4 linked regions of the Homo sapiens genome follow. The protein of the gene in region 1 purifies or fractionates together with the protein of each later gene. This does not show direct contact. Each region holds a gene or a part of one and is shown in the gene's direction. Other genes may lie near its edges.

Evidence for each region.
Region 2: the proteins of NDUFAF5 (region 1) and PPM1E purify together in Homo sapiens (affinity purification with mass spectrometry; 3 studies listed by BioGRID and IntAct, with this or other methods). This does not show direct contact.
Region 3: the proteins of NDUFAF5 (region 1) and RAD51D purify together in Homo sapiens (affinity purification with mass spectrometry; 3 studies listed by BioGRID and IntAct, with this or other methods). This does not show direct contact.
Region 4: the proteins of NDUFAF5 (region 1) and HBB purify together in Homo sapiens (affinity purification with mass spectrometry; 3 studies listed by BioGRID and IntAct, with this or other methods). This does not show direct contact.

The regions. Positions count from the first base shown.
Region 1 is NC_000020.11:13,780,627-13,788,027, forward strand, and holds the start of NDUFAF5 (arginine-hydroxylase NDUFAF5, mitochondrial), read left to right. Parts: upstream 1-4,401; 5' UTR 4,402-4,442; coding exon 4,443-4,664; intron 4,665-5,723; exon of another isoform or gene 5,724-6,685; coding exon 6,686-6,726; intron 6,727-7,401. Other genes in the region: ESF1 homolog, read right to left, coding at 1,878-2,514. UniProt on the Homo sapiens protein: Arginine hydroxylase that mediates hydroxylation of 'Arg-111' of NDUFS7 and is involved in the assembly of mitochondrial NADH:ubiquinone oxidoreductase complex (complex I, MT-ND1) at early stages. May also have methyltransferase activity.
Region 2 is NC_000017.11:58,975,825-58,982,853, forward strand, and holds part of PPM1E (protein phosphatase 1E), read left to right. Parts: intron 1-4,149; coding exon 4,150-5,207; 3' UTR 5,208-7,029. UniProt on the Homo sapiens protein: Protein phosphatase that inactivates multifunctional CaM kinases such as CAMK4 and CAMK2. Dephosphorylates and inactivates PAK. May play a role in the inhibition of actin fiber stress breakdown and in morphological changes driven by TNK2/CDC42.
Region 3 is NC_000017.11:35,095,840-35,102,868, reverse strand, and holds part of RAD51D (DNA repair protein RAD51 homolog 4), read left to right. Parts: intron 1-1,503; coding exon 1,504-1,668; intron 1,669-1,832; coding exon 1,833-1,916; 3' UTR 1,917-7,029. UniProt on the Homo sapiens protein: Involved in the homologous recombination repair (HRR) pathway of double-stranded DNA breaks arising during DNA replication or induced by DNA-damaging agents. Bind to single-stranded DNA (ssDNA) and has DNA-dependent ATPase activity.
Region 4 is NC_000011.10:5,224,935-5,231,090, reverse strand, and holds HBB (hemoglobin subunit beta), read left to right. Parts: upstream 1-4,019; 5' UTR 4,020-4,069; coding exon 4,070-4,161; intron 4,162-4,291; coding exon 4,292-4,514; intron 4,515-5,364; coding exon 5,365-5,493; 3' UTR 5,494-5,627; downstream 5,628-6,156. UniProt on the Homo sapiens protein: Involved in oxygen transport from the lung to the various peripheral tissues. LVV-hemorphin-7 potentiates the activity of bradykinin, causing a decrease in blood pressure.

The DNA.
Region 1 (7,401 bases):
TGGCCTATCAAGAACTCTTGGGCTATCAAGACCTCTTGGCCTATCAAGACCTCTCGGCCTATCAAGACCCCTCCTTGGATCCTGTAATCACAGGTCTGGCTCATGTGAACTACTACTGGTTTTCAGTTACATCTTCAACTATCAGCAACATCAACACTCAAAATTGCTTGCTGCTGGAGGTGACAAAAAATTTTAATTAGTAAACACGTAATGCAAACTAGAGCCAGCTGTCTCTCACCTAGTTCCAAACAATCATTTCTCGCTGCTACTCATTTTGGCCCTTCAAGACCTTATTATCTAATCAAACGGGACTACTGACCTCTTCTGAACATGCCCAATCACATCTTTGCTCAAAAAGTTCTTTCCATGTAGCACACTCTGGTCCTCAAACTTAAATTTTTCCACACCCCAAAGTAGTGCGTCCCCTATGAATTTTTCTGATTACCACATCTTGAGTGACTTCTTCCTCCAGATTTCCATGGCTTTCTGCTAAACATCTTTTACGGCACTTACTATTATTGCATTTTGTATTATGGTTCTGACTTTCTTCTACTTTAGATCTATATTGTCCAATATGGTAGCCAGTAGTCACATGTGGTAACGGAGCACTTGAAATGCGTTTTGTCTAACTTGACATTAATATGAAAATAGTATTAGTATGAAATGAGTAGAAAATGGGATGTAAAATATACATTGACTTTTATATTGATTACATATTGAAATAATTTTGATATATTGGGTTACATAAAATATATTATTTAAAATAATTTTACCTGTTTCATCTTACTTTTTAATGTGGTTACTAGAAAATCCAAAATTATGTATTTCTACTAGACAATGTTGCTTTAGACAGGGGCCACTGCACAAAGTTTAGCAGGCTGTTATCCGCACAGGGGCATTTATAAAAGGACAAGAAGGGCTAAAATCAAGGCCATCCTACACTCACCAAGCCATGCACTCTGGAGGGGGCTGTGTCTGCTCAGGGGCAAAAAATCTGTTGCTTCAAAGGCGCCATCTCTTCACCAAAGTGTGACCCCTGGGAGCTCTGTGTGTCCAGAGAGCATGCCTTTTTCTAATTTGCATAAAGGCATCATATAAGCTAGCGACAGCCCTGAGATGGGTGACGACGCCTTACTCATATTCTGCCTGCCACATACTAGTGGCAAAGCAACTGAACAAATTAATGAATGAGTACTCAACTCTACTTACCCTCTTATTTTATTTTTGAGACGGAGTCCTACTTACCCTATTTATTTTATTTTACTTTTGAGACAGAGTCTCGCTCTGTCAGCCAGTCTGGAGTGCAGTGGTGCAATCTCAGCTTATTGCAACCTCCACCTCCCAGGTTCAAGCAATTCTCCTGCCTCAGCCTCCCGAATAGCTGGGACTACAGGTGTGCGCCACCATGCCTGGCTATTTTTTTTTATTTTTAGTAGAGATGGGGTTTCACCATGTTGGCCAGGCTGGTCTTGAACTCCTGACCTCAAGTGATCTGCCCGCCTTGGCCTGCCAAAGTGCTGGGATTACAGGCGTGAGCCACCATGTCCGGCCTACTTACCCTCTTTAGACACATCTCTTCTTATCATGTGATGACATATAACACTTTATCTGGTTAGAGAATATAGTTCTCATTAGGGCTCACCACTAATCAAAATCACTGTTTAACTTCAAGATTCAAATTTTCATGTCTGTCTTCTAGCACCACATCAAAAATTAATAATCACTGCATATTTCTTTTATAGCTTTGTATTTCCAGATAAGCATTTGACCATTCCATAATACTATGAAAATACTTATTAATGTGTTTACATTTTTGAAAGATCAGTATAAAAATAAATAATGTAACACCCAAGAATCTCTAATTTTTTCCAACCTACCTGATTGCATTTCTCTTCTTGTCTTAGAACACTCGATTCTGGGAGATTTCACAATTTCAGAGGTGCCTGAGTCTAATGTCCTTTGTTTTTCTTCGAGAGAAGAGTCTGTAGTATGTTGAACAATGTTTTTTTTCTCTTTCTTATTTTTTTGTGTAAATTCTTTGCTATCCTTCTTCGGACTTATGTTTGAATCTATCTTAAATTTACATGAGGTTTTCATTTTTTTAATTCCTATAGAATTATCTAAATCAGTTTTATTTTCAGAACCCTTGTGATTAGCCTTCTTGGTTTCTTTCTTTTTCTCAACTAGATTTTTTGAATCGATTTCTTTTTTAGTCTGGGTTTTTTTCTTCTTTATTTTCTTTTGACTCAATGCTTTGCTATCTTCACCAGAGAGATTGGAATCAGAATCTGAAAGGTCGTAAAAACGCTTCAAATCCTCTGTAGTGCTATGGCTAATGGGGCGCCCTCTTTTATCCACGGCATAGTTCAACTTGAACTTCTTGTCATGAAACATGGCTCGAAATCTCTTGTCAATTTTGACTTTTCGATCCTTTTCTGGCATTTCCCAAAATCTCGGGTCCTTTGCAACCCGTCTAAACCGCTGGTCACTCATTATTTCTTGTTTGGATGACATTTTTAATTCTTAATCTCGACCAAATGCTTGAAGAAAACAAATACTGAAAAATAAAACAAATGTTTTAATGGTAATAATGGTTAGTACAATAATTAAATGTTTTAAAACACATTCACAATATATTCTAAGTTAATATATTCTAAGTTAAGTGTACATAAAATAGAGGTAACAAGTCTAATTTCATCTCTCCAACGTATTCTGGGTCACATGCAAAAAAGCAGAAACATACCAAAATATCCTCTTTCCATGACAGATCATTTAGAGAAATAAACTTAAGGTAGACAAAGCAGAATCCCAGGGCTTTATGGAGGGGAACAAATGTTTATTCATCCATTGCTCTCACTTAGAATTTCTATTTGTATACCAGTATGTGTTACTAATTGAAGGCAAATGTAGTTAAGATTCCCTAGGCCGAGTGCGGTGGCTCACCAGCACTTTCGGAGGCCAAGGCGGGCGGATCACTTGAGCCCAGGAGTTCAGGACCAGCCTGGGTAACATGGTGAATCCCCACAAGAAATACAAAAATGAGCCCGGCATGGTGGCGCGCGCCTGTAGTCCCAGCTACTTTGGAGGCTAAGGCAAGAGGATCACTTCCACCCGGGAGGTCTTGGCTAGAGTGAGCCTAACGGCACTACAGCACACCAGCTGGGGCAACAGAGTGAGACCCTGTCTACCAAAAAAAAGTAAGAAAGAAAGATTCCCTAGCCTCCGTTGGCCTCATTTGTTTCTTCACATTCTGGTCTCATTCTGCTTACTCCTTATCTCCGGCTACTGCCAACAAACAGCCTTTAGTTCTGTAAGACTAGCATTCTAACTAAACAGACCAAAATCAACTCAGGTTTAGCTAAGAAAGTTTCCTTTTTAAATTCGATCATCCTTCAAAAGTAATAAAAAGTTTAAAAATAAAAAGTAAATTTGAGTCTCCAGGTAAAGTCTCACACCAGTTAATAAATATCACTTCTTTCTATAATATCTGATTCTACCAGTGATGAAGGCCCAAGTGAGCTCATTCCCCCAAAACATACTAGAACATATACATATGTGTGTATAAATTAATATTGTTCCCTTGTGAAAAGTCTCCAATGGTTTAGCATCTCTGGATGGGAATTTTGCAAAGAGCCAAAAGTCGTTGATTATTAAGCAACCCCCCCCCAAAATGATTAAAAGGGCAATATTTCTTATTTAAAAATCAAGTCCTTTTAATTACACTAACTAGGAAAAAAAAGGAAGCTATCGCTGGTGCATTTACACATTTTTCGATGTATTACAGCACTTAACTCTCTGAGCAATCTTACGAGGTAGGTACCACCTCAACCAGGAGAAGTACTGCATGTATTGTAAATGTTTAGAAGGAAAGCACTCATTATATGTCAGATAATCCGAGAGAGGGGAAGGCGACCGGACCTCACTCCCGACACGCGCCCGCATCCCCGTAGCCCACCCTCCCCTTCTGCCCGCTCTCTAATTCGGAGAACACAGGGCTGGCCCCTGAACTAGGGTCTCCTTTCCACCTCCTGTACCGCAGGGGGGCAGCTAACAGACTGATTCGAGAAGCGACCCTGAAAAGGATCGATGAAGACTGAAGAATGAGACCGAAAAAGGCTCAGGAGGAAGGGGCAAAACCCCTCGCAGATCCGAAAGAGATCCTGTTAGAGACTAGTTTTTTCCCCGCGCCACACACACACACGCCCTCAAGCCCTTCATCTCGAGCTCTTCAACTCCAGTCCATCCCCACTCACCGTCCGCAGTCCTACCAAGCCTCACGTGGGGCTCACACCCACAATCCTCCGCGTGACGCTCCGCCGTAATGGCAAGCGAACTAGGCCAAACTACTTGCACGTTCCCTCGAGAAGATCTTTGGAGTAGACACAAAAGCCGCGCTGGCGCATGCGCACAAAAAGCGCCGGCAATTGGGGTCGCAGCTGGAGATGCTGCGGCCGGCAGGGCTCTGGCGCTTATGTCGGCGACCTTGGGCGGCGAGGGTCCCAGCGGAGAATCTTGGCCGTAGGGAAGTCACCTCTGGTGTCTCTCCCCGCGGTAGCACCTCGCCCAGAACCCTGAATATTTTCGACCGGGATTTGAAAAGGAAACAGAAGAACTGGGCAGCCCGGCAGCCCGAGCCGACCAAATTTGACTACCTGAAGGAGGAGGTGAGCCCGCGGGGCGGCGGGGCGGCGGGGCGGGCGACGCGGAGGCTTGTTTTCCTCTCCGCTAGTTCCGGCTAGGCCCCGAGCTCACCCCACCTAGCCGTCTGACCTTGACCAGCAGCCCTGCCTCTTTCGGCCTCTACTGTAATCACGCAAGGCCTGGCCTCGGATATTTGTAACATGCTTTCATTCATTCATGCATTCATTTCGGCAACGTCCTTGAGGCTGAAAGGACCTTATAGAGGCCTCCAGTGAAGCTCCGGAGAGGGAGAGAGTGGGAGAGAAGGTTAGGAGGACCCAAATCATCAGGGCCTTGCAGGATAGGGACTTGGGGTTTTCTTCTGTATCTGCACTGTCCAGCCAGTATGGTAACTGCCGGCCACACATGTGGCTGTTGAACACTTGAAAGGTGACTAGTCCAATTGAGATGTGTTGTAAAATACACACGAGTATAGTGACTTAGTATGAAAAAAGGATGTAAAATAGCTCATTAAGAGCTTTTATATTGATTACATGTTGCAGTGATTATTTTTGATATATTGGGTCACATGAAATATATTAAATATAAATTTAAATTTTTCAATTAAAATTTCTCTCGTTTTTACTTTTTTTCTTATGTGGCTACTAGAAAATTTGAAATTACATATGTGGCTCTCATGATTTTTGGTCAGCACTGCTCTAGGGGAATGTGAAGCTCTTGTTTTAATCAGTGGAGTGATCTGACTTATGTTTTAGGAAGATCAAATTAAGATTTCTGATTTGTCTTGGCTCGTTTGAGAAACCTTTCTCCCTGCCCAGGTGAGCCAGAGACTGAGGGTTTCTACTTTCAGGACACGCATTCTCAAGTTCAGGCCTCAGTAAATTTTTATTCAGGAGTGGAACAAAGTTGGAGTCAAGTATAATGCAACAAACAGTTATTGAACTCATAGCTTGAGCAGAGCTCTGTGCAAGTACAGGTCTGATCAGATGATTGACAGGGTGTCTTTCTCAGGAAGTCTTAGGCTGGTAATGTCTATTATAGGAAGTTTACTACCAATAAATTTTTTGTGTCTCACTTGTAAGGCATGGTGCACGTACTACACTGCTGATGTCGTGTACTTAGAAGATGTGCGCTCATAGCCCTTTCCCTCCAAAGAAAGCACCTGGACTACAACTTGATTGAGGCCTCGCCAATTTGTGAGACTAGAACAAATAAGATAAAGTATATGAGAGTTCTTTTTATAATAAACATAGGGTGTTCATATTAGGAATGACGTACAAGGTGGACTCCTGGGAAAAACATCTACGCTCCCTTCTCCCTTGCCCTTCTCTCAAAAAGCAGGTACATCTGTGTTTGGAACTTTTAAGTCCTAAGAGCAACTCTGGGGTGTTTATGAGGGAATGAGTGGAATGTGGGGAATACTAGACTCCCACGTCTTTATTGCTACCAGATGAAGCTAGGCCAGCAAAAGGTGGTGCTTACCTTATGACTCTTAAATTGGGATGGGATTGGAGCAGGGGAGGTGCACTTTCCTCAGATTTGGCTTTTTCTAACTTGCGAATGTCACTCAGAAAAGTTGTTCATTTATGAGTTCCACAAAATTTGTTAGTCATCAAATAATAGAGTTTTTCTTAAGTGACCACTTACATACTCATCTACAATAAACCCCAACTAACTAATTTTTCACTTTGTGTACCTCATGCTAATATCCGTGGACAGTAATGTGCCTGTTGTGTTCCTTTTGCTTTTCATCCTTGTGATCTTATGTCACATGGAATGTAAAGGCCACATATATATATGTGTGTGTGTGTGTGTGTATATGTATATTTTTAAGAATATTTAGTCTGGATTTCATGAAATTGACTTCTGAAATAATTTGCCTCAATTTTGTTTCCTGGTGGTTTGAGAAGAAAGTTCCTGTGGTGAAATTGAAAAGGGGATAAAGGGAAGTACTTATTTTAAAACATAAGTAACTTGTGGATTGTTGAATACTGGAAAAAGAGTGTTACTTCCCCGTTAACCTACGCCTCGTGTAATCCTTCAGGTTGGAAGTCGGATCGCAGACCGTGTATATGACATACCCAGGTAAGTGGTGGTGATCATAATACAATACCATCAACTTTTGAGTGGAAATTCAGGAGATTAAATGCTGAGAACTTGCTATCTGAAATGGCAGAACCTGGAAGAATTTACTCAGACTGGTGATTTAAATCACTCTGTAAGTCTCCTTTTTCTTGTCTGGAGAGCAAATGTTTTCTTCATTGTTGCCTGAAAAAAGAAAAGAATGTGTGGAAGCACAACTCGTATCTATCTCCAAGCCTGAATCCACTTGATTTGGCCAAAAGCAAGTAATAGAAAGATTGCTCCAAAAATGGAGATACTTAACAACATGCGAATTTTTAACATCCGAAGCCTCTGTACCTAACTGTGCCATATTGCCTGTGTTCATCATCAAGATATAGGGCATTAGGTAAATAAGGTTATCTACCACCAGGGATTCTCCAGCTATGTACTATAATTTTGACAAAGCTTTTTAAAAACAAATTGCAATGGGGCTCTTTTTGTTCCAGTTTTTCAGGAAGAATGTTCTTAGTAGATAAAATTTTAAGTTTTCTTATTATAGGTTTTTTTTTTTAAACCTATGGCCTACAATTAGATGTCTGTACCAATGTAGCATAACATAGTGTATTTAGAGGAGACAGCATGGCATGGAGGATAATAGTTCCAGCTCAGGATTCAGACTGACCGAATTCAAGTGTT
Region 2 (7,029 bases), on another chromosome or scaffold:
GAAAGAGCCTGGCTGGGAGACATTCATACAGTTTGTTACAGAGATGAGGAGAGCTAAAAAGGAATATGGAGGAGGGTATCAACTGATGAGATGGATTGGTTGGTGGGAAAACCTACTAATCAACAAACAATCTGGCACTGGAAATAGGCAGTAACATAAAGGAGCAAGTGTAGATTTAGTTTCTTGGGCAGTTTGATGGTGAAGGGGAGAAAGGAAATAGTGTGGTGGCTTAAGGCAAAAGCTGATTCAGGAAAGGGTTCCTTTTTATTGTTTCTATTTTTAGGACGAGGAGATTTTAGATTTGAGCATGTTTGTAGGACAAGGAAGAGAGCAAGTAGAGGAGAAATTGAAGACGAGAGAGTAGAGAAGCCAGAGCAGCACAGGCTCACTGTTAGGATGGGAAAAGGACACTGCTTACCCTGAGAAAATGGTAGCTGATATGGGAGAATCTCTACAGATTAAACAGTGCATGTGTGGCAAGGGTGGGAGGGGAATTGAGAAAATTCAAGCCTGATCAACTTGTCTTTGAAGTAGGAAATTAGGCCATTTACCAAAATCCAGTAGCTTAAGTGGATGAGGGAGTTGAAGAATTTGAGAAAGAATTGGAAACCACATGGAATAAAATGGGGGGCTGCAAAAGGACAAGAAAAAGGACTCCTGGGCAGAGTTCAGCTCTACTCAGGAAAGAAATGATACTTATAAAAATGAAAAGGTTTTCAACAGTTTCTCCCCATGAGCCCTTCAGATTTATGATCCAAAGTTGACAGAGGCATGATATGTTTCCTAACATATGGAGAGAAGAGGTTGAAGACAAAAGGATGTTGCCATTTCTACGATGAAATGGATATTCATGCCCTCCTACCAAATTTGGGGGCGAAATGTCATGAATTTGACACCCAACAGTAGAGCAGGTGAAAAGCCAGAACTTTGGCAGCATTTTCTCTGTACAAATCTTTGTATGTTCTGTTCCAAACTAACAGTTGCAGCAGTCTTTTAATTGAAGCACTAAAACAAGATTTTTGGGAACAGTGTGACTCAGATCACATTTATTTTTAGAGGCGGAATTCAAAAAATAATAATGATGATAATCATATAGTCAGGTAGAATAGGGGATGGGAACTTTAGTAAATTGGTGAAGGACACTGAATCCCATATTGGATTTTATTTATTATTTATTTTTAAATATCTTTTAAATTTTTGCATTTTCTGCTTAAATAGATTGAGTTTTAATGAGCTCTAACAGGCTATGGAGGCACCTTAGCATATAAGTGAAGTTGATTAAATCAAAAGCATGCTTGGGAAAGATGGTTTTGACTCCTGTAAGAAATAATGAATGAGGGCTGGGCGCGGTGGCTCACACCTAGAATCCCAGCACTTTGAGAAGCCCAGGTGGGTAGATCACAAGGTCAGGAGTTCAAGACCAGCCTGACCAACATGGTGAAACCCTGTCTCTACTAAAAACACAAAAATTAGCTGGGTATTGTGGTGCGTGCCTGTAATCCCAGCTACTTGGGAGGCTGAGGCAGGAGAATTGCTTGAATCCGGGAGGTGGAGGTTGCAATGAGCTGAGATCACACCACTGCACTCCAGTCTGGGCCACAGTGAGACTCTGTCTCAAAAAAAAAAAAAAAAGAAATAATGAATGAATGAATGGAGAAGAGCCTAGATATGAGTAAGATGAGAGGTTGTGTTTGTGAATGGAAGGAGTGAAATGAACATTTATAATGTCGAAGACTAATTTCTTACCTAATAGATATACTAACTCAGGTAATTATATTAATTATTTGTTGCTCTGTGTATCTAATCATGCAACCTGCTAGATAGGGCATGTGCCCACATTGGTTCTAGCAGAGTTATCCATAGGGTTCCTAATGAGCTTTCTAGCCTATTTGAGGATTAAACAGGGATGTTAAATGTTGGAAAGAAACTTTTTTTTGAGACAGAGTCTCCCTCTGTCATCCAGGCTGGAGTGCAGTGGCGCAATCTGGGCTCACTGCAACCTCTGCCTCCTGGGTTCAAACAATTCTCCTGCCTCAGCCTCTTGAGTAGCTGGGACTTTGCATGCATGCCACCAGGCCCGGCTAATTTTTGTATTTTTAGTAGAGACAAGGTTTCACCATGATGGCCAGGCTGGCTTCGTACTCCCGACCTCAAGTATCCTCCCGCCTTGGCCTCCCAAAGTGCTGGGATTACAGGCATGCGCCTGGCCAACTTTCTTGTGTCAAAGAGAACCTATAACAGATACTAGAAATAATGAATATATAGTCAGATTACTCAAGTGAGTTTATCTTCATTTTAATATTCCCTGAGTCAAAAAGTTCGGTTTTAGTGCAATGGAAAGGATAGTAATTGATGAGAGTTGTGTAGGTGACAAGTAGAAGAGCTAGGATTTGGACCCAGGCAGTCTGACACTAGTGCTGGTGTCCTTAACCACTAAGCAATATGCCACTGCTATACAGTAAAGCCCTTTGTAAATATCTGGAGTTTATTTCTTGTTTTTATAATACTATGTAATGATGATTTATGATACCCTACTCTAGGAATTATTGCTCAGTACCCTGTGTGTGGTTTTGTTTTTATTTTTTTGTAAAGAAGTGAATGAGAGGCCAGATGCGGTGGCTCATGCCTGTTATCCCAGCACTTTGGGAGGCCGACACAGGCAGATTATCAGAGGTCAGGAGTTCGACGCCAGCCTGGCCAATATGGTGAAACCCCGTCTCTAATAAAAATATAAAAATTAGCCAGGTGTGGTGGCGTACGCCTGTAATCCCAGCTACTCCGGAGGCGGAGGCAGGAGAATTGCTGGAACCTGGGAGGCAGAGGCTGCAGTGACCCGAGATTGTGCCACTGCACTCCAGCCTGGGCGACAAAAAATAAAAATAAAAATAAAAAAGTGAATTGAGAGTCCCTTGTTGTAGTCATAAGCTATTTGGTTACCTCATAGGCTAAGGACCCTTTTGCTGCACTCTCACAAGGTACCTAAAGGAATGTAATCAATGTAAACAATGAATGGATTTGGAAGTGCTCTGGATCTGAAAGCCCTAAATGATCAATTATCTCAGTAGTCTGGTGATAGAAACCTAGTTTAGTGTGGTCCCAAGGTCTGCAGTCTCGCTCCTACCCCAAGCACCCTACTCTCCAACTGTACATTACTCCCTAACAGTTGCCTCTGCCTTTGCTTATCCTGTTCCCTCAATTGAGGCAACTTCTCTGCCTGGTGATAACTAACTTACCCTTCAGGACCAGCTCAGATGTCATTCTGTGAGAGGACGAAGCTAAGCAAGAAAAGGAAGAGAGAAAGGCCCAGAAAGACCTTGGGTTCTCACAGTTGTTAATGAGTGGGGAAATGCACAATAACAATAAAGACAGAAGTGGGGCGATGAGCAGAGCCATATGAAGAATATGGCAGTCTCTAAATATAAGAGAAAAATGGCCATACATTTTGTCTGTTCTCTAGAAGTTACAGGTAAAGCACCACTAAAAAATAGAAAGCCAAGTGGGTTGGGAATCAAGAAAACTGCATTCAGCTCCCATGTGTGAGGCCTTGGGTCAGCCACATAACTCCTCCTGGCTTAAGGGAGTTAGACTTGATTTATAAAATCTCGTGTAACTCAAACCTTCCTTCGTGCTCGCAGCATGAAGCTATTTATTGATTTCTAAACAAGAATAGAACAAAAATTATTTAATGAAGAGAATGATCAGAGCTTTGGTTTGCTTCTTTCAATGTGGGCTTGTTTTCAAATTTCAATTAAATCAAAACCACCTGCAAAAGAACAGATCTACTGAATCAACCATGTCTTCCTACACAGTGTACTGAATTTTTCAGTACAGCAACAAACTTTTAGATCTGACATTGTTGTTACACTCAGCTAAGCCTAAATCATAGCCAGAGGTGCAGATTCAGAGTCTAAGCTAGGTAAGGACTTATGCCCAGTAACTAGCAATTATTTAACTGGGAGTAAGGAGTAAGCAGATCTGATTACCAGAGAATTTAAGTATTTTGTCAAAAACTATTTTATAAATTCTTTCCAGTCAAGTCAGTTCACAATCCAGTAAGCTGTGATCAGAGTCATGGCATTGGTCATAAACGTTCTTAGCATGCAAGGTAAAACAAATGCTAATGATGCCCCTACACTCTGCTTCCCGCAGGAGATGCTGAACATAAGCCATATATCTGTGGGGATGCAGATTCTGCCTCCACTGTTCTGGATGGGACCGAAGACTACCTCATTCTGGCCTGTGATGGCTTCTATGACACCGTGAACCCTGATGAGGCAGTGAAAGTTGTGTCCGACCACCTGAAAGAGAATAATGGAGACAGCAGCATGGTTGCCCACAAATTAGTGGCATCAGCTCGTGATGCTGGGTCAAGTGATAACATCACGGTTATTGTGGTATTCCTGAGGGACATGAACAAAGCTGTAAATGTTAGTGAGGAATCAGATTGGACAGAGAACTCTTTTCAAGGAGGGCAAGAAGATGGTGGGGATGATAAGGAGAATCATGGAGAGTGCAAACGCCCTTGGCCTCAGCACCAGTGCTCAGCACCAGCCGACCTAGGCTATGATGGGCGTGTGGATTCATTCACTGATAGAACTAGCCTGAGCCCAGGGTCCCAAATCAACGTGCTGGAAGACCCAGGCTACCTAGATCTCACACAAATAGAAGCAAGCAAACCTCACAGTGCCCAGTTTTTGCTACCAGTTGAGATGTTTGGTCCTGGTGCACCAAAGAAAGCAAATCTTATTAATGAGTTAATGATGGAGAAAAAATCAGTTCAGTCATCATTGCCTGAATGGAGTGGTGCTGGAGAGTTTCCCACTGCTTTCAATTTGGGTTCAACAGGGGAGCAGATATACAGAATGCAGAGCTTGTCTCCTGTCTGTTCAGGGTTGGAAAATGAACAGTTCAAATCCCCGGGAAACAGAGTTTCTAGATTGTCTCATTTACGCCACCACTACTCAAAGAAGTGGCACAGATTCAGGTTTAATCCAAAGTTTTATTCATTTCTCTCTGCTCAAGAGCCTTCCCACAAAATAGGCACTAGCCTGTCCTCACTTACTGGAAGTGGGAAGAGAAATAGGATAAGAAGTTCTCTGCCATGGAGGCAAAATAGTTGGAAAGGGTACAGTGAAAACATGAGGAAGCTCAGAAAGACTCATGATATTCCATGCCCAGATCTTCCTTGGAGCTATAAAATAGAATAATTTTTCTTTCAAGTAGGTTAGCTAGCTCTCCCCCAATAAAAATACCACTATCAGAGTAGAAACAAGGTAGACATTTCTAAAACATATGTGCTTCATTATGAATCCATGGATGGCTCAATTCTTAAATGTAAATAGATCTCTAGGAAACTCAAAGTACAGTGTTTTCAATCTAAAAAGAAGTATTGGCAGTTTCACTTGCAAAATTACACAGCTGGTCCCTGTGATGTGTCTCGACACCAATACACAACCCCCTTCCCACCATCCTTCATGTCACTAGATACACAACCCCCTTCCCACCATCCCTTCAGTCACTAGTGGAAGCTTTCAAGTTAGTTATTTCAGTCAGGATATACAGTGTTGAAATCTCAATGCAGTTGAAATCTGGTCTGATGTGCCTAATTTATCTGTGGAAAATTTAATGCTGAATTACATTTGGTTGGGAAATGTCCCTCAAAATCCTGGGCACTATGAAGGAACCCCCTGCCCCCTCACCTTTTTGGGTAGGTAAAAGACTAAAAGCCATATGGATTTTAACTGATAACAATGAAAGTGGTAAATCAGTGTAAAAGTGTCATATTCTCAGACTTGTGAGGCGGTTTATAGTCAGAAAGATTTACGGATTTTTTTCCTGTAACATAAAAGATTGTGAACTTTTTTTAATTAAAAAATATTTCCTAGGGCTGTAGTTATTTGGGAGTTTCATAACCTGTTATGGTGCTTTTGGTGGAAATTTTTATTATTTAGCATTTTAGGAGACCGCTGTCAACTGGTTTTAATCTATGATGCTAATGTGTTTTCCACTGTACCCTCATCTCAGGAATAAAACTGCTTTAACGGAGATGATGTCAGGTACAAATACACTATAGAGTCAAAATACCATTTACAAAGAAAATCAAAAGCATTTCTATATTTTGTCTTTTTTTAGTTCAGACAGCAAAGGCATGTACTACTATAAAATACAAAGTGATTTTAGAGAATGAAAAATGCTACTTTTATCTTCTCTAAAATTATTTCCCCCAAGGTAGTGAAGTAATTGGAATGAAGGAGGCTGAAAGTATTGTCTAAAGTGAGCCCAGAGGCCACTGAGAATGCAGATTACTGACAGCCAGGTCTGTTTAGTTGTAATTGGAAGACACATGAGTGTCCTGCTTACATGTAGCTTCAGACTGCAGAGACAGGACGTGTGCTTTTCATTTCAATATTTAGTTATATTTGATATTTTGAAACTGTCTGCTTTTTGCTATTTCTGCAGTTTCAAGTTAGTTAGAAGCATGTTGTCAACTAAAGACAACAAACTATCAGATTCATTCATTCAGTGAAGCAGCCTCTGATTCTCTAAGAGTCACGAATGTCTTAGTGTTACCCTCCCCTAGTCAACAGCAGACCAGCCTGGCCAATGCCTATGGGTGGCCCCTCTGGAGTGCTCACTAACAAGGGTGAGTGCTCTCGCTAAGAAGTGTCCCCCGCCTAATCATGTGTTTATAGGATAGTACACGTTCCCCAGGCCCATAACAGAGGACTAAAATCTCTGAATTTTAAAGACACAGATGACTGGCATATTTTGGATACCAGTATAGCTATATCAAATAGACAAAAACAGCTTCACTTTAGCAATGATCAGATTGTTAATCTACAGATTTTATTTTTTAAAATTTGGATGTAAGTAGAGACTTTCAGTATTTGTTTTCTCTTGATTTTGAAGTCATTTCTTCTTCTCACGTCTGTGACAAATGGTTGAAAAGGAGTCAACATGGCCCCAACTATAGTGCCGGAACCTTTTCATCATTCTGAGGCTTTGCCCCACACATGGTCCTCACTCATA
Region 3 (7,029 bases), on another chromosome or scaffold:
AGCTTCATATAAATGGATCTTTTTGCTATTGAAGTAACTTTTTCTGCTTATGAGGTAGTTTTTTTAAAGTCTGCATGCTTCTCATAGAAAGGATAGAAAATAAATATGATTCAAATTTGTCATCAATCTCCACATCCACAGAAACCATATTAATATTTTTACATATCTCCATACAATACTTTTTCTGCATATTTACTTATACTTTTAGCCAACTTTCTTTCTTTCTTTTTTTTTTCTTTTGAGATAGGGTTTCGCTCTGTTTCCCAGGCTGGAGTGCAGGGGCACAATCACAGCTCACTGCAGCTCGACCTTCCAGGCTCAAGCAATCCACCCGCCTCAGCCTCCCAAAGTGTTGGTATTACAGGTGTGAGCCCACACTTAACCAGCTTTCTAACTAAACTAACCTCATGAAAAAATAAAAAAAAATAGGCCAGGTGCGCTGGTTTATGCGTGTAATCCCAGCACTTTGAGAAGCCAAGGCTGGTGGATCACTTGAGCCCAGGAGTTCGAGACTAGCCTGGGCAACATGGCAAAACCCCACCTCTACAAAAAATACAAAAACTAGGTGGCCTTGGTGGCAGGAGAATTGCTTGAGCCTGGGAGATCGAGGCTGCAGTGAGCTGTGATCATGCCACTGCACTCCAGCCTGGGCAACAGAGCAAAACCTCATCTCAAAAACAAACAAACCAAAACAACAACATAAAAAATACCATCTGAGTCCATTTCCTATGTTTTAAAATAGATTTTTTAGAAATGTAATTTTTAGCAGCTATATATTTTTTCCAGTTTCTTTTATTGTGGTAAAATACATGTAACATAAAATTTACTATCTTAACCACTTTAAGGTATACAGTTCGGTGGTGTTAAATACATTCATAACGCTGTACAACCATCACCACCATCCATCTCTATAACTCTTCACCTTGTAAAACTGAAACTCTGTACCCATTAAAAATAACTCATTTTCCCCTTCCCCAGCCCCTGACAACCACCATTCTACTTTCTGTATCTATGCTTTTTGACTACTCTAGGAACCTCATATACATGGAATCATATGGTATTTACTTTTTGTGACTGGAGTATTTCACTTAGCATAATGTCCAGAAGGTTCATCCACCTTGTAGCATGTGTCAGACTTTCCTTCCTTTTAAAGGCTGAGTGTCTGGGCGTGGTGGCCCACACTTGTAATCCCAGCACTTTGGGAGGCTGAGGCTGGCGGACTGCATGAGCTCAAGAGTTTGAGACCAGCCTGGAAAGCATGGTGACATGTGCCCCATCGCCTTCTGGTTCGGGTCAAACCTGAGGCATCGAGATTTAGTGGAAAGAGCGGGGCACAAGTCAGGAGGCCCAGGTTCTAGTTCCAGACCTGCCATTAGGTTTTGTAACCTTGGGGAAGTTATTTCTCTGTGCTAGGCCTCTGTTTTCCTCTCCGTAAAATGAAGCGGTAGTAATCGATGTCCTCTATACTAGCATTATGGATCTGTAAGTCTGTTTCTGCTGCAGGTGACCAACCACATAACTCGAGACAGGGACAGCGGGAGGCTCAAACCTGCCCTCGGACGCTCCTGGAGCTTTGTGCCCAGCACTCGGATTCTCCTGGACACCATCGAGGGAGCAGGAGCATCAGGCGGCCGGCGCATGGCGTGTCTGGCCAAATCTTCCCGACAGGTGAGCCAGCCCCAGGAAGATGCCAGTAATCTTGGGCCCTGGAGGGTGGTTTCCATACCCACAGATGTCTTCGAGAAGAACTCTTTAGAGGCTGAAACCTTGCAACTAAAGAAGCTACCCACTTGGGTTGCTTAACTCCACTGACTCCTTACTTCTTCTTCCAGCCAACAGGTTTCCAGGAGATGGTAGACATTGGGACCTGGGGGACCTCAGAGCAGAGTGCCACATTACAGGGTGATCAGACATGACCTGTGCTGTTGTTTGGGAAACAGGGAAGCATTGGGGACCCCTCCCAACTTTTCTTCCCAGTAACGCCTGCTGTTTACTGCCACCTGGCACTGGTGACTACAGACGTTCTCAGGCTGGCCAGAAGAGACATCTTGGGTTCCTTGGCCTCACTCTCTGTAAGCATATAAACCACAGGCGAAAGAGGATGCTGCATTGCGAGGACCCAGAAATTCATACTGGTGCCACGTTTCCTTCCCTTATTTCTAACGTGTATGTTTCTGGTGGAAACCAAGTTCACCCTGGCTGGGAGCATCTCTGATGAGGCATGCTGGCGACTGGATGGATAATCCTGTGCATCACCATTGTGTCCTGTGCTCCCTCCTAGCGCAGTGGCCAAGCCGGGAAAGCCTCTAACTTGCCTTTGCTGCTGCTGCCTTTTTTTTCTTTTGTCTCTGCCTTTCCATTTGTTAGATGGGGGCCCACTCTTCCTTAGCTCTGTCTCTGAGTTACTGGGTGGAAATAAGCTTATAAATGAAATACTCTTCTTCATCTCTGTTTTGCTCTTAAAAATATAAAAAGGCAATTCCCCGAGCCCTAGAGCCACCTGATTTCCCCTTAGAAGGCTGTTTTTCAGTTTCCCCCAGTGAGGCCCAAAGAACAGTTTATTCCTCCTTTCCTCTTGCTGATTTGGTTTCAGACCTGCCTGCATCACCATGACTAGGTGAGAACGTGTGGGCTCGCTGCAGTTCCAGGGATATAATTTAACAGAAAGGGAGGGTATGACCTGCTCCTGGTGAATCCAGCCACTCATTTAATATGCATGGTGCCCTGTGGGGCCCCTCCACAGTACAGCATAACCAGAGGTGCTGAACCATGGCCTTGCCCATAAACAGACAGAGGAGAATTTGCACAGTAAATAGAGCCAGCTGGGAAAATTGATGCTGACGTAAATAATACATGGCAAATCTAGTCCTTTATGCAGAAATTCATTGCTGGTGGCTCCAAGATGCAATATAATTACACCTCTCTTCCTGCCAGCTGTACCACAGCTAGTGCCCTAGTGTATGAAATAATCCCTCTGTCTTTCACCAGCACTGTGGCCATCCGTCTGAGAGCCATGACCCTGGCTGGGAGGGGACGAAGACACCAGGGAATGGAAAATAAAAGGAAAAGTACAGAAATGATCAGGATTGGTTACTGGCCACATCTTTTAAAGGAAGGTCATCTTTCTTGGTTAGAGAGCCTGTTGTGTAATTAATCAGTTATGTCTTGGCTGCAGGAAAGGAGGGTCCGAGTTACACTCAGAAAGTAATGACATTTAGAGGTGATGAATGCAACAGGGATAGAATCATGGAGGATTGGGAAGGAGTGGCAAACTGGCACCAGGGTGTTGGATTCAGGACAGGGTTGGTAAGCCTAAGCCTGGGGGAATCCTAGCGCTTGCTTTCACAGAAGACCTCAGGAGAAATTAATCTTCAGTATCTTTATACCATGGGTGATTGGCACATTCCTGCAACCACAGTAAGATGCAATACATGAAGCTGGAAATTGCAAATTCTTGCCACTCAAGGTACTATTTGGGCATCTTCAGCCCACAGCAGACATGACCAATCGGGCACAAGCACTCTTTTTTGTGGAAGTCAAAGTGTTTTTAGAAGTTTTTCTCAATATAGCACTCCAGGGGGCCACTACCAGTCAGTTGGAGTTGGTATTCAAGGTGGAGTCTGGTTGCCGTCTCTGCCCTGTTCCCATTATGTAGTGAGTTCAGGTACTTAATACCTAACTGAGGACCCTAGGACTGCAGTTTGAGATCATCTGGGGCCAGGCACAGTGGCTCACACCTATAATGGTAGCACTTTGGGAGCCTGAGGCGGGAGGATCACTTGAGCCCAGGAGTTTAACAGTTTAAAATCAGCCTGGGCAACATGATGAGACATCGTTTCTACAAAAAAATTTTTTAAATTAGCTAGGCATTGTGATGTGCACCTGTGGTCCCTGCTACTTGGGAGCCTGAGGCAGGAGAATCGCTTGAACCTTGGAGGTTGTGGCTGCAGTGAGCCCTGATCGCACCACTACACCCCAGCCTGGGTAACAGAGCAAGACCCTGTCTCAAGGAAAAAAAAAATCATCTGGCCCATCCTGTTACTTAACAGAGAAGGTACCTGAGGCTCAAAAAGGATGACTGACAGTCCTAGTGGCAGAATGGAGGTGGGATCTGGAACCCACAACTTGATTCCTAGGACTCTTTTTTTTTTAATTCCCACATTGGCTGGGTGTGGTGGCTCACGCCTGTAATCCCAGCACTTTGGGAGGCTGAGGTGGGTGGATCACCTAAGGTCAGGAGTTCCAGACCAGCCTGACCAACATGGTGAAACCCCGTCTGTACTAAAAATACAAAAATTAGCCAGGCATGGTGGCCCATTTCCTGTAATCCCAGCTACTCAGGAGGCTGAGGCAGAATCGCTTGAACCTGGGAGGCGGAGGTTGCAGGGAGCTGAGATGGCGCCACTGCACTCCAGCCTGAGCGACAGAGTGAGACTCCGTCTCAAAAAAAAAAAAAAAATGCAAAAATTAGCCAGGCGTCGTGGCGCATGTCTGTAATCCCAGCTCCTCGAGAGGCTGAGTGGGGAGGATCACTTGAGCCCAGGAGGCAGAGGTTGCAATGACCTGCGATCATGCCACTGCACTCCAGCCTGGGCAACAGAGACTCTGTTTCAAAAAGAAAAAAAAAATCCCCACATTTTATTTAATTTTCAGTCCATACAGTTCTATTCCTGCTAGGGCTGTAACTCCAGCTGAAGGCACCACAGCTGTCACCCAAGGAGTTTCTGTGGCCATGGGAAGGTGTTGCATTCACTGCTACTTGAGACCACCACGTGACATTCCTGCAGGCTGTGCCCCTCACAGCCAGCTTCATCCTTTGGCTCCTCCTAGACCAGGACTTTGTCTTGCCTGCCTGCTGCCACTGCACTCTGTTCCGGCCACACCACACTGTGCAGTCCCCTGGTAGGACTTGGGCTAGGCTGGCTCTCCTGTCCAAGTGCCTTTTGCTCCCTTTGCTTATGTGTCTGTCTCTGCCCAGCTCCCACTGTGTCTGGTGCACACCCACCCTGACATCCTTTTTTATGCCTCAGCTGTGATCTAGATAGATGCTTACAGTAACTTCCCTGTATTAGTTATTCACTTGTACTTTCTGTTCACGTGTCTGCCTACAGGCTCCCACTTTTTGTCACTTTTTCTCTTTATACATTATGGAAGCTCAGTAATGATTAAATAGATGAATGATGTTTTAAAAATATATTTTAAAAAAGCAAAGGACTGGCTCTATCTCAGGGGTTCCTTCCATAAAGCGTCAACTTTCAATTTCCCCTGCGGGGGTGGTTTGAGACCTGAGGGCACTCTCTAGTTCTTAGGAAAAAAATATACATATACATATACATATATATATATATATACACACACACACACACACATATACACACATATATATACATATATATACACACATATATATATATACACACATATATATACACACATATATATACACATATGAGCCAGGCGCAGTGGCTCACGCCTGTAATCCCAGCACTTTGGGAGGCCAAAGTGGGCGGATCACAAGGTCAGGAGTTCAAGACCAGCCTGGCCTATATAGTGAAACCCTGTCTCTACTAAAAATACAAAAATTAGCTGGGTGTGATGGCTCGCATCTGTAATCCCAGCTACTTGGGAGGCTGAGGCATGAGAATCGCTTGAACCTGGGAGATGGAGGTTGCAGTGAGCCGAGATTGTGCCACTGTACTCTAGCCTGGGCAACAGAGTGAGACTCCATCTAAAAAATATATATATATGTTCACACCCACATCATTGAGTCCCCAGAGTGTCTTCTTACATATCTTTTTACAGGGGACTATTGTATGCCCTTCGTCTGACATCAGATGAAATTAATGTTGAGATCCTACTATGTGCTAGCACTTGATGGCCTTAATTAAAAATCAGGCATTTGAATTCCCAAGGACTCAGGCAAAGGTCCATGTATCATTAAGGCTGCAAGTAACAAAACCTAGGCTTAAAGAAGTGTAAATACTAGGGACACTTATTTATATTTATTTCTTTTATGTTTCAAGACAGAGTCTTGCTCTGGAGTGCAGTGGCACAATCACGGCTCACTGTACCCTCTACCTCCCAAGCTCAAGTGATCCTCCCACTTCAGTCTCCCAAGTAGCTGGGACTACAGGTGTGTGCCACCACACCCATCTAAGTTTTGTATTTTTTGTAGAGACGGGGTCTCTGTACGTTGCCCAGGCTGGTCTTGAACTCCTGGGCTCAGGTGATCTACCCGCCTTGACCTCCCAAAGTGCTAGGGATTACAGTCATGAGCCACCATGCCTGGCAGGGACACTTATTATCTCTGATAACAGGAAGTCTGAGGTTTGTTAATTTAGTGGCTCATTGTCAAATGGCGTAGAGCCTTTGCATCCTTCTGCTCTGTTCTTTTATGTTGGTTTTGTCTTCAAGCTTGTTCCCCTTATGAAAGCCTGGCTGCAGCCATTTTGAGCATCAATCCAGACGTGACAATATCTACAGGCAGGAGAAGGATCGCCTCCTGTGTGTCCTTTAAAGAACAAGGTGTTAACATGCCAGGAACTGTGGCTCCTGACTGTAATCCCAGTAATTTGGGAAGCCAAAGTAGGAGGATCGCCTGAGGCCAGGAGTTCCAGACCAGCCTGGGCAACATAGCAAGACCCTATCTCTATAAAATAAAATAATAAAAATTAAGAAAACAAGGTGTTAAAAGACAAAATTAAAGCAAATATAGTTTTGCAGATTGTAATTGACTTTTATTTGCAATTCTAGAATTGGGCTGCCCTCAGAACCAGGACAGGTTCAGAGAATTCCAGAGCTGCAACATAGTCTGAAAGCATTTATGGTCAGAAAACAGAAATGAGATACAAAGACAACTAATTGGTTACAGCTCTGCCTTTGCCTTATTTGAAAATGGTTTGAATAGTTGGCTGCCTGGAACCCACTGAAGCTGATGATGTGATTGGCTGAGCCTCAGCAATCTGTTACAAAAGTATACTCCTAAATTAGGTTTTCAGTTAGTTTGCATACTAAGGCTGCAGTTTGTTA
Region 4 (6,156 bases), on another chromosome or scaffold:
TTGTTAGAGTAGAGCTTTTGTAAGAGTCTAGGAGTGTGGGAGCTAAATGATGATACACATGGACACAAAAAATAGATCAACAGACACCCAGGCCTACTTGAGGGTTGAGGGTGGGAAGAGGGAGACGATGAAAAAGAACCTATTGGGTATTAAGTTCATCACTGAGTGATGAAATAATCTGTACATCAAGACCCAGTGATATGCAATTTACCTATATAACTTGTACATGTACCCCCAAATTTAAAATGAAAGTTAAAACAAAGTATAGGAATGGAATTAATTCCTCAAGATTTGGCTTTAATTTTATTTGATAATTTATCAAATGGTTGTTTTTCTTTTCTCACTATGGCGTTGCTTTATAAACTATGTTCAGTATGTCTGAATGAAAGGGTGTGTGTGTGTGTGAAAGAGAGGGAGAGAGGAAGGGAAGAGAGGACGTAATAATGTGAATTTGAGTTCATGAAAATTTTTCAATAAAATAATTTAATGTCAGGAGAATTAAGCCTAATAGTCTCCTAAATCATCCATCTCTTGAGCTTCAGAGCAGTCCTCTGAATTAATGCCTACATGTTTGTAAAGGGTGTTCAGACTGAAGCCAAGATTCTACCTCTAAAGAGATGCAATCTCAAATTTATCTGAAGACTGTACCTCTGCTCTCCATAAATTGACACCATGGCCCACTTAATGAGGTTAAAAAAAAGCTAATTCTGAATGAAAATCTGAGCCCAGTGGAGGAAATATTAATGAACAAGGTGCAGACTGAAATATAAATTTTTCTGTAATAATTATGCATATACTTTAGCAAAGTTCTGTCTATGTTGACTTTATTGCTTTTTGGTAAGAAATACAACTTTTTAAAGTGAACTAAACTATCCTATTTCCAAACTATTTTGTGTGTGTGCGGTTTGTTTCTATGGGTTCTGGTTTTCTTGGAGCATTTTTATTTCATTTTAATTAATTAATTCTGAGAGCTGCTGAGTTGTGTTTACTGAGAGATTGTGTATCTGCGAGAGAAGTCTGTAGCAAGTAGCTAGACTGTGCTTGACCTAGGAACATATACAGTAGATTGCTAAAATGTCTCACTTGGGGAATTTTAGACTAAACAGTAGAGCATGTATAAAAATACTCTAGTCAAGTGCTGCTTTTGAAACAAATGATAAAACCACACTCCCATAGATGAGTGTCATGATTTTCATGGAGGAAGTTAATATTCATCCTCTAAGTATACCCAGACTAGGGCCATTCTGATATAAAACATTAGGACTTAAGAAAGATTAATAGACTGGAGTAAAGGAAATGGACCTCTGTCTCTCTCGCTGTCTCTTTTTTGAGGACTTGTGTGTGTGTGTGTGTGTGTGTGTGTGTGTGTGTTGTGGTCAGTGGGGCTGGAATAAAAGTAGAATAGACCTGCACCTGCTGTGGCATCCATTCACAGAGTAGAAGCAAGCTCACAATAGTGAAGATGTCAGTAAGCTTGAATAGTTTTTCAGGAACTTTGAATGCTGATTTAGATTTGAAACTGAGGCTCTGACCATAACCAAATTTGCACTATTTATTGCTTCTTGAAACTTATTTGCCTGGTATGCCTGGGCTTTTGATGGTCTTAGTATAGCTTGCAGCCTTGTCCCTGCAGGGTATTATGGGTAATAGAAAGAAAAGTCTGCGTTACACTCTAGTCACACTAAGTAACTACCATTGGAAAAGCAACCCCTGCCTTGAAGCCAGGATGATGGTATCTGCAGCAGTTGCCAACACAAGAGAAGGATCCATAGTTCATCATTTAAAAAAGAAAACAAAATAGAAAAAGGAAAACTATTTCTGAGCATAAGAAGTTGTAGGGTAAGTCTTTAAGAAGGTGACAATTTCTGCCAATCAGGATTTCAAAGCTCTTGCTTTGACAATTTTGGTCTTTCAGAATACTATAAATATAACCTATATTATAATTTCATAAAGTCTGTGCATTTTCTTTGACCCAGGATATTTGCAAAAGACATATTCAAACTTCCGCAGAACACTTTATTTCACATATACATGCCTCTTATATCAGGGATGTGAAACAGGGTCTTGAAAACTGTCTAAATCTAAAACAATGCTAATGCAGGTTTAAATTTAATAAAATAAAATCCAAAATCTAACAGCCAAGTCAAATCTGCATGTTTTAACATTTAAAATATTTTAAAGACGTCTTTTCCCAGGATTCAACATGTGAAATCTTTTCTCAGGGATACACGTGTGCCTAGATCCTCATTGCTTTAGTTTTTTACAGAGGAATGAATATAAAAAGAAAATACTTAAATTTTATCCCTCTTACCTCTATAATCATACATAGGCATAATTTTTTAACCTAGGCTCCAGATAGCCATAGAAGAACCAAACACTTTCTGCGTGTGTGAGAATAATCAGAGTGAGATTTTTTCACAAGTACCTGATGAGGGTTGAGACAGGTAGAAAAAGTGAGAGATCTCTATTTATTTAGCAATAATAGAGAAAGCATTTAAGAGAATAAAGCAATGGAAATAAGAAATTTGTAAATTTCCTTCTGATAACTAGAAATAGAGGATCCAGTTTCTTTTGGTTAACCTAAATTTTATTTCATTTTATTGTTTTATTTTATTTTATTTTATTTTATTTTGTGTAATCGTAGTTTCAGAGTGTTAGAGCTGAAAGGAAGAAGTAGGAGAAACATGCAAAGTAAAAGTATAACACTTTCCTTACTAAACCGACATGGGTTTCCAGGTAGGGGCAGGATTCAGGATGACTGACAGGGCCCTTAGGGAACACTGAGACCCTACGCTGACCTCATAAATGCTTGCTACCTTTGCTGTTTTAATTACATCTTTTAATAGCAGGAAGCAGAACTCTGCACTTCAAAAGTTTTTCCTCACCTGAGGAGTTAATTTAGTACAAGGGGAAAAAGTACAGGGGGATGGGAGAAAGGCGATCACGTTGGGAAGCTATAGAGAAAGAAGAGTAAATTTTAGTAAAGGAGGTTTAAACAAACAAAATATAAAGAGAAATAGGAACTTGAATCAAGGAAATGATTTTAAAACGCAGTATTCTTAGTGGACTAGAGGAAAAAAATAATCTGAGCCAAGTAGAAGACCTTTTCCCCTCCTACCCCTACTTTCTAAGTCACAGAGGCTTTTTGTTCCCCCAGACACTCTTGCAGATTAGTCCAGGCAGAAACAGTTAGATGTCCCCAGTTAACCTCCTATTTGACACCACTGATTACCCCATTGATAGTCACACTTTGGGTTGTAAGTGACTTTTTATTTATTTGTATTTTTGACTGCATTAAGAGGTCTCTAGTTTTTTATCTCTTGTTTCCCAAAACCTAATAAGTAACTAATGCACAGAGCACATTGATTTGTATTTATTCTATTTTTAGACATAATTTATTAGCATGCATGAGCAAATTAAGAAAAACAACAACAAATGAATGCATATATATGTATATGTATGTGTGTATATATACACACATATATATATATATTTTTTCTTTTCTTACCAGAAGGTTTTAATCCAAATAAGGAGAAGATATGCTTAGAACCGAGGTAGAGTTTTCATCCATTCTGTCCTGTAAGTATTTTGCATATTCTGGAGACGCAGGAAGAGATCCATCTACATATCCCAAAGCTGAATTATGGTAGACAAAACTCTTCCACTTTTAGTGCATCAACTTCTTATTTGTGTAATAAGAAAATTGGGAAAACGATCTTCAATATGCTTACCAAGCTGTGATTCCAAATATTACGTAAATACACTTGCAAAGGAGGATGTTTTTAGTAGCAATTTGTACTGATGGTATGGGGCCAAGAGATATATCTTAGAGGGAGGGCTGAGGGTTTGAAGTCCAACTCCTAAGCCAGTGCCAGAAGAGCCAAGGACAGGTACGGCTGTCATCACTTAGACCTCACCCTGTGGAGCCACACCCTAGGGTTGGCCAATCTACTCCCAGGAGCAGGGAGGGCAGGAGCCAGGGCTGGGCATAAAAGTCAGGGCAGAGCCATCTATTGCTTACATTTGCTTCTGACACAACTGTGTTCACTAGCAACCTCAAACAGACACCATGGTGCATCTGACTCCTGAGGAGAAGTCTGCCGTTACTGCCCTGTGGGGCAAGGTGAACGTGGATGAAGTTGGTGGTGAGGCCCTGGGCAGGTTGGTATCAAGGTTACAAGACAGGTTTAAGGAGACCAATAGAAACTGGGCATGTGGAGACAGAGAAGACTCTTGGGTTTCTGATAGGCACTGACTCTCTCTGCCTATTGGTCTATTTTCCCACCCTTAGGCTGCTGGTGGTCTACCCTTGGACCCAGAGGTTCTTTGAGTCCTTTGGGGATCTGTCCACTCCTGATGCTGTTATGGGCAACCCTAAGGTGAAGGCTCATGGCAAGAAAGTGCTCGGTGCCTTTAGTGATGGCCTGGCTCACCTGGACAACCTCAAGGGCACCTTTGCCACACTGAGTGAGCTGCACTGTGACAAGCTGCACGTGGATCCTGAGAACTTCAGGGTGAGTCTATGGGACGCTTGATGTTTTCTTTCCCCTTCTTTTCTATGGTTAAGTTCATGTCATAGGAAGGGGATAAGTAACAGGGTACAGTTTAGAATGGGAAACAGACGAATGATTGCATCAGTGTGGAAGTCTCAGGATCGTTTTAGTTTCTTTTATTTGCTGTTCATAACAATTGTTTTCTTTTGTTTAATTCTTGCTTTCTTTTTTTTTCTTCTCCGCAATTTTTACTATTATACTTAATGCCTTAACATTGTGTATAACAAAAGGAAATATCTCTGAGATACATTAAGTAACTTAAAAAAAAACTTTACACAGTCTGCCTAGTACATTACTATTTGGAATATATGTGTGCTTATTTGCATATTCATAATCTCCCTACTTTATTTTCTTTTATTTTTAATTGATACATAATCATTATACATATTTATGGGTTAAAGTGTAATGTTTTAATATGTGTACACATATTGACCAAATCAGGGTAATTTTGCATTTGTAATTTTAAAAAATGCTTTCTTCTTTTAATATACTTTTTTGTTTATCTTATTTCTAATACTTTCCCTAATCTCTTTCTTTCAGGGCAATAATGATACAATGTATCATGCCTCTTTGCACCATTCTAAAGAATAACAGTGATAATTTCTGGGTTAAGGCAATAGCAATATCTCTGCATATAAATATTTCTGCATATAAATTGTAACTGATGTAAGAGGTTTCATATTGCTAATAGCAGCTACAATCCAGCTACCATTCTGCTTTTATTTTATGGTTGGGATAAGGCTGGATTATTCTGAGTCCAAGCTAGGCCCTTTTGCTAATCATGTTCATACCTCTTATCTTCCTCCCACAGCTCCTGGGCAACGTGCTGGTCTGTGTGCTGGCCCATCACTTTGGCAAAGAATTCACCCCACCAGTGCAGGCTGCCTATCAGAAAGTGGTGGCTGGTGTGGCTAATGCCCTGGCCCACAAGTATCACTAAGCTCGCTTTCTTGCTGTCCAATTTCTATTAAAGGTTCCTTTGTTCCCTAAGTCCAACTACTAAACTGGGGGATATTATGAAGGGCCTTGAGCATCTGGATTCTGCCTAATAAAAAACATTTATTTTCATTGCAATGATGTATTTAAATTATTTCTGAATATTTTACTAAAAAGGGAATGTGGGAGGTCAGTGCATTTAAAACATAAAGAAATGAAGAGCTAGTTCAAACCTTGGGAAAATACACTATATCTTAAACTCCATGAAAGAAGGTGAGGCTGCAAACAGCTAATGCACATTGGCAACAGCCCCTGATGCATATGCCTTATTCATCCCTCAGAAAAGGATTCAAGTAGAGGCTTGATTTGGAGGTTAAAGTTTTGCTATGCTGTATTTTACATTACTTATTGTTTTAGCTGTCCTCATGAATGTCTTTTCACTACCCATTTGCTTATCCTGCATCTCTCAGCCTTGACTCCACTCAGTTCTCTTGCTTAGAGATACCACCTTTCCCCTGAAGTGTTCCTTCCATGTTTTACGGCGAGATGGTTTCTCCTCGCCTGGCCACTCAGCCTTAGTTGTCTCTGTTGTCTTATAGAGGTCTACTTGAAGAAGGAAAAACAGGGGTCATGGTTTGACTGTCCTGTGAGCCCTTCTTCCCTGCCT